Regions from separate parts of the Homo sapiens genome. Here region 1 is linked to region 2. The links come from fine-mapping of genetic effects on plasma protein levels. A gene starts in region 2. The other region holds a variant in brackets. All regions are shown on one strand. Distances are from middle to middle.

Region 1 (2,906 bases), 26 kb after region 2:
CCTCAGCCTCCCGAGTAGCAGGGACTACAAGCATACACCACCACGCCCAGCTAATTTTTGTATTTTTAGTGGAGACGGGCTTCACCATGTTGGCCAGACTGGTCTTGAAGTCCTGACCTCAGGTGATCTGCCTGCTTCGTCCTCCCAAAGTGCTGGGATTACAGGCATGACCCACTGTGCCCGGCAATTTTTTTTTTTTTTTTTTTTTTTTTTGAGACGGAGTCTTGCTCTGTCTCCCAGGCTGGAGTGCAGTGGCGTGATCTCTGCTCACTGCAAGCTCCACCTCCCAGGTTCACGCCATTCTCCTGCCTCAGCCTCCAGAGTAGCTGGGACTACAGGCGCCCGCCACCAAGCCCGGCTAATTTTTTTGTATTTTTAGTAGAGACGGGGTTTCACCGTGTTAGCCAGGATGGTCTCGATCTCCTGGCCTTGTGATCCGCCCGCCTCGGCCTCCCAAAGTGCTGGGATTACAGGCATGAGCCACTGCGCCTGGCTCTTTTTTTTTCTTTTCTTTTTTTTTTTTTAAGAGACAGGGTCTTGCTCTGCCATCCAGGCTGGAGTACAGTGGTATACCCATAGCTCACTGCAGCGCCAAACTCCTAGGCTCAAGGGATCCTCCCACCTTAGCCTCCAGAGTAGCTAGGACTACAGATGCATACCACCATGCCCAGCTAATTTTTAAAATTTTTGGAGACAGGGTCTCACTATGTTGCCCAGGCTAGTCTTGAACTCCTGGCCTCAAGTGATCCTCCTGCCTTGGCCTCCCAAAGTGCTGCATTACAGGCATGAACCACTGCCATCTGGCCAGGGGATTCTACTAGGATGCAATAACTTGCCTCCCGCCCCACCCCTAACAGAGGGATGGGGCATCAGAGCAAAGGAAATGAAGGACATTTGCTGGAAATGACAGTCCGAAGAGGAAATTTCATGTGTTGTACCACAGCTGGCTGTCTGAAAGAAGAAAAAACAGCCCTCTTCTAGCTAGGGCCTGTTCCTGTTAATTGCTGGCTGCCCGATTCAGAAACAAACACCATACACTAATTA[C/A]CTCATTTGAAAATAAAGATTAGACAGTGTATCCCAAACAACCACATAGGAGTAATGGTTCAAATATTTCACAGGGTTATTTTCCAACATTGAGTACTGTGGCCATGGTGATATTACGTCCCAGTAACTATTATTAAGTTGATGAGATCTTGCTTATGAAGGGTCAGACTCTCCACGCATTTTTAGGTGACCACAAATCATGGCTTTAAAACAAAGGAAGAAAACTTACAGGCAGTATGGGATAGTGCAAAAGACATAAGATTTGGAATTGGAGGACCAAGGCTTGAGTCCTGCTTCTGCCTCTATTAGTCATTAGTCCCTGAGCAAGTCACTTAACTTCTTCATTTCCTAGTTTCTATGTCTACAAATGGGGATTCCAACGACCCCTGGAATGTGGGGATTAAATGAGATAATGCTGTAAGTAGCTACTTTGTAAATTCCAGAGTATTATATAAACGTTAGCACTTACGATAGATTTGAAGAGTTTCTCCCTAATGCTTCACTAGAAAAGCAAATTCAAGGCCAGGCATGGTAGCTCACGCCTGTAATCTCAGCACTTTAGGAGGCTCAGGTGGGCAGACCACCCGAGGTCAGGAGTTTGAGACCAGTCTGGCCAATGTGGCGAAACCCCGCCTCTACTAAAAATACAAAAATTGGCCGGGCGTGGTGGGGGGCACCTGCAATCCCAGCTACTCGGGAGGCTAAAACATGAAAATTGCTTGAACCCAGGTTGCGGAGGTTGCAGTGAGCCAAGATCGTGCCACTGCACTCCAGCATGGGGGACAGAGTGAGAGTCCATCTCAAAAAAACAAACAAAAAAAAGCAAATTCAAGAGAGCACTACTTTCCAGGAAATCAATTCTTGAGACAGCACATACGTGCAAAACTGATTAGCTTTAATCCCAATGCAAAATCTGACAAATTCCAACCAAGAACTTTTCCTTGAAAATACCCAAGAATTAGATGTAAATGACACATAGGGACTGATGTTTGAAGGAAAATTATTTTTCAAGGTTTTGGTAATTTGCTTCACATAAACATCTGGATCAGTGCATAGAACCTGAAGCAGGGCCAAATGCTATATGAGGATAATAATATTGACTACTGAGGCAGAAGGAGCTTATGATTTAGCACTCTGCTACTAAATATGTCTGGTGACAACTGATAAAGTCTTTCACAGTGTTGAGAAATAAAAGAGCTTCCATAAGCACTTATTCAAAATACATTGACTGGGCTGGGCGCAGTGGCTCACGACTGTAATCTCAGCACTTTGGGAGGCTGCAGCAGGTGGATCACCTGAGGTCGGGAGTTTGAGACCAGGCTGGCCAACATGGTGAAACCCTGTCTTTACTAAAAATACAAAAATTAGCTGGACATGGTGGTGGGCACCTGTAATCCCAGCTACTTGGGAGACTGAGGCAAGAGAATCGCTTGAACCCGGGGAGGTGGAGGCTGCGATGAACCAAGATTGCGCCACTGCACTCCAGCCTGGGCAACAGAGCAAGACCCCATCTCAAGACCATTAATGAGTGTGGGTAACAAAATATAATATGAAAATCTGATGCTATGAATCCAACACCTGTGTTTTAGAAATGAGATTGAGGACAGATGACTAGCTGCTCCTTCCACATTGTTTTTGAGACGGAGTCTCACTCTGTTGCCCAAGCTGGAGTGCAGTAGCATGATCTCAGCTCACTGCAACCTTTGCCTCCCAGGTTCAAGTGATTCTCCTGTCTCAGCCTCCCACGTAGCTGGGATTACAGGCATGCACCATCACACCTAAATTTTGTATTTTTTTTTAGTAGAGACAGGGTTTCACCATGTTGGCCAGCCTGGTCTTGAACTCCGGACCTCAGGTGATCT
Region 2 (2,882 bases):
CCCCACACACTGCAGCTGTACTTTGACCTGCGGGAGAGGGGAGTCCGTGCTGCAGTCCCCTTTCTCAGGGCTGTCTAGGATCTCCATCTCTCTGGTCTTCCCGCGACCCCAGCGTCCATCCACCGGGCCCGGGCCCTCCTCACCTTCTTCAGGCCACTGATGGTGCAGCACTGAGAGACGGAGGTGATGTTGTGTCGGTAACCACTGGCCACCAGCACAGAGTACCGAGAAGGGAAGGCGCTGGACTCACAGTGGCCCACACAGGCCTGTGCCACGTGGGAGCCCTGGCAGGTGCCTTGGCGGTCACTTCGCACTGTCACATTGAAGGCTAGAAGGAGATAGGCAAGCAGTAGACGGCGCCTCTGCCAAGGTTTGCCTCGCCCCAGCTCCCGTTGCCTGTGCCTCAGTGTGGGGCCCTTTAGGGTGCTGCCTGCCCCACCGTCCACTCAGCTCTTTGCTCCCACCCAGAACCTCCACTGCTCCTAGCCCTCCGGTCCCAGAGGTACTCACGGTGCAAGTGGCAGCCTGGGATGACTGCCTCCTGGCCCCAGGCTTCAGTGACTGCCAGGACCAGCAGATAGAGGACCAGGGTTTGAGGGGACGCCATAGGCATCTGAAACACAGTGGGGAGATGTCTCTACGTGGGTGTGCAGGTGGGATGGCGAGTTCTTTAAATACTGCATTCCAGGTGAGTGAGCCAGGGCTGGCTGGTCTGACAGGTGAGGTGTGCCTGAATGGTGCTGCCTTTTCCCTGTATCTGCCTTTGTGTGTGTGTGTGTGTGTGTATGGGTGTGAGTGTGAGCAGCTGTCTCTGGAAAGGACCTGTGTGTCAGCCCTCTGTGCAGTGATTCTCCCTTCCCTGGAATTTTCTTCGCCATCTGGAGCGCAAACATCTTCCTCCCTCCATCTGCCCCATCTTGGCCTGCAGGGCCCTCGTCCACATTCCCAGACCCTCCCCAGAGCTCCTCCTGCCTCAGCGAGCTCACCACTTCCGAGGCCCAGGAACAGAGCGGCTTGCAGTTTTCCTGTGCCTCCTGCTGGTCTCCAGCTTGGTGCTGGCTCTCCAGGCTTTTATTTGCCAGCATTTTGGAGCCACGCCCTCTTGGAGATCGGCTTTCAAACCAGCCTCCCCTGCCTGAAGCCTCAGAGCGATCCCACCTGGGGGATCTTGCTCTTTGAGGTGCGGTCCTCGGAGAGCAGCTCCTGCTGCTTTCTGCTTCTTTCTGTCCAAAAAGCTACCCACAGCCCAGGCCTCGATAAGTCAGATGTGGAGAGAAGCCTAGGAGCTGGTGGAGTGTGCAGCGTGTGTGCAGCTGACGACACAGGGGTCAAGACTCTTGGCTGAGTTGTGGACACCTGGGTTCTCTTTGCTCTGTGACCTTGGACAGAACATTTCCCTGTTCAGGGCCTGATCACCCCTAACTTTATTATTATTTATTACTATTATTTTGAGAGGGTCTGGCTCTGTCACCTAGGCTGGAGTGTGGTGGTGTTATCTCGGCTCACTGCAACCTCCACCTCCCAGCCTCCCAGACTCAAGCCATCCTCCCCCTTAGCCTCCTGAGTAGCTGGGACCACAGGCACACCACTATGACCAGCTAACTTTTGTATTTTTTTGTAGAGACAGGATTTTGCCATGTTGCCCATGGTGGTCTTGAACTGCTAAGCTCAAGTGATCCGCCTGCTTAGGCCTCCCAAAGTGCTAGAATTACAGGCATGAGACACTGTGCCTGGCCACACCCCTAATTTTAAAACCACTAAACTCAGTCCTGCTTGCCTTTTTCTAACTGCAAAGGAAAGGGATTGGGGAAGGAGATTCTTAGGGACAAGGGAAATTATACCAGTGGAGGTCTCCTGAGATGTGCTTGGTGGCAGGGCCGGGGGTTTGGGGGTTGCTGTCTGTTTCAGAGTTGCATGGCCACGGTATCAGTGGATGATTCGCATCCTGTGCTACAGAGTAACGTTCTGAGCTGGAGTGCTCCCCTAGCCCTGGAATAACAGGGACCTGACTCCTGAAAGGGCCTGAAGTTATCAACCCCAGCAAAGCTGATCTATTTGTCCAACTCTGGTTTTATAGATGAGGCAACTAAGGCTCAAAGAAAGAAAGTTACTAAAAGTCACCCAGCTAGTTAATGTTAGGGCTGATTTCAAATTCAAATCTGCTGTCCATCCATGGTGCTAAACTACACTTGAGCAAGAATGTGGCAAGCTGGAGAAAGACCCCCAGGCAGCAGTGGCCAGAGGGGTTGGGGCAAGGTGGAGAGCCAAAGGAAGCCTGTGGTGATTCTGGGCAGCCCCGCTTTGGGGTCATTGCCTCACTGATCTGCTCAGAAAGAGCAGGGCCAGTCACAGACTGCTAGAGCTAGAAGGCACTTTATAACTCACCAAATCCTACCCCCTCATTTTCTGGATGAGAAAATAAGAGCTCAGCGGAAAACAACTTCCCAAAGCTTCACTGTAAGCTAGTCAGAGTCAGGGCGGGCACTCACAGCTCCAGATTTGGAGCTGTGCTTCTTAGCAGCTTTGTAAAACAGGCCATGTTTGGGACAGTCGAGTAAAGGCTGTAAACGCAATTTGAGAGGAAGTGATGTTACTAATGTCACTAATCCTTAAATTCCCACACCCTACGGTTTCCCCATCAGCCCCCATCCCCTCAAGACCTGGGTCCTTGTTTGCCAGGTCCTCCGCAGCAGTCCACCTCTTCTCTTCTCCCCACCAAGGGTGCAGGCAGCATAGCAACAGGACGCAGCGGGAACTCAGCAGTTCAGCCCCTGCTCTCCCACTCTTGAGGGGCACCCTCTGGCATGTGACAGATGATGGCTTCTGTTTAAAGCATTTGGGTGACAAGGCTCATTACCTTATGAGGTAGCCCATTCTAATAT

Which allele goes with the higher level. Positions count from the first base shown, and alleles are read on the strand shown. Strength reflects both the effect of a copy and how common the allele is.
In carriers of allele A in region 1, the plasma level of the protein whose gene starts at base 1,046 in region 2 tends to be lower than with C alone (weak association).

The links. PIP is the chance, under the fine-mapping model, that this variant and not a neighbour inherited with it causes the effect. Protein levels are from antibody-based Olink assays in UK Biobank. Linkage for the fine-mapping came from a reference panel and not from the study's own genotypes, which makes the PIPs less certain.
Region 1: its variant is fine-mapped to the plasma level of the GPHA2 protein (UK Biobank, PIP 0.93).

The regions. Positions count from the first base shown.
Region 1 is chr11:64,961,281-64,964,186 of GRCh38, forward strand. All of the region lies in intron 1 of MAJIN (membrane anchored junction protein), which reads right to left. Among named protein-coding and RNA genes, the nearest start is that of MAJIN, 9.4 kb to the right of the region's middle. The variant C/A (reference allele first, on the strand shown) is at 1,045.
Region 2 is chr11:64,934,848-64,937,729 of GRCh38, forward strand. GPHA2 (glycoprotein hormone subunit alpha 2) reads right to left here and starts at 1,046. Exons shown (of 4, transcript NM_130769.4): 1 at 987-1,046; 2 at 511-613; 3 at 144-328; 4 at 1-27. The coding sequence starts at 613.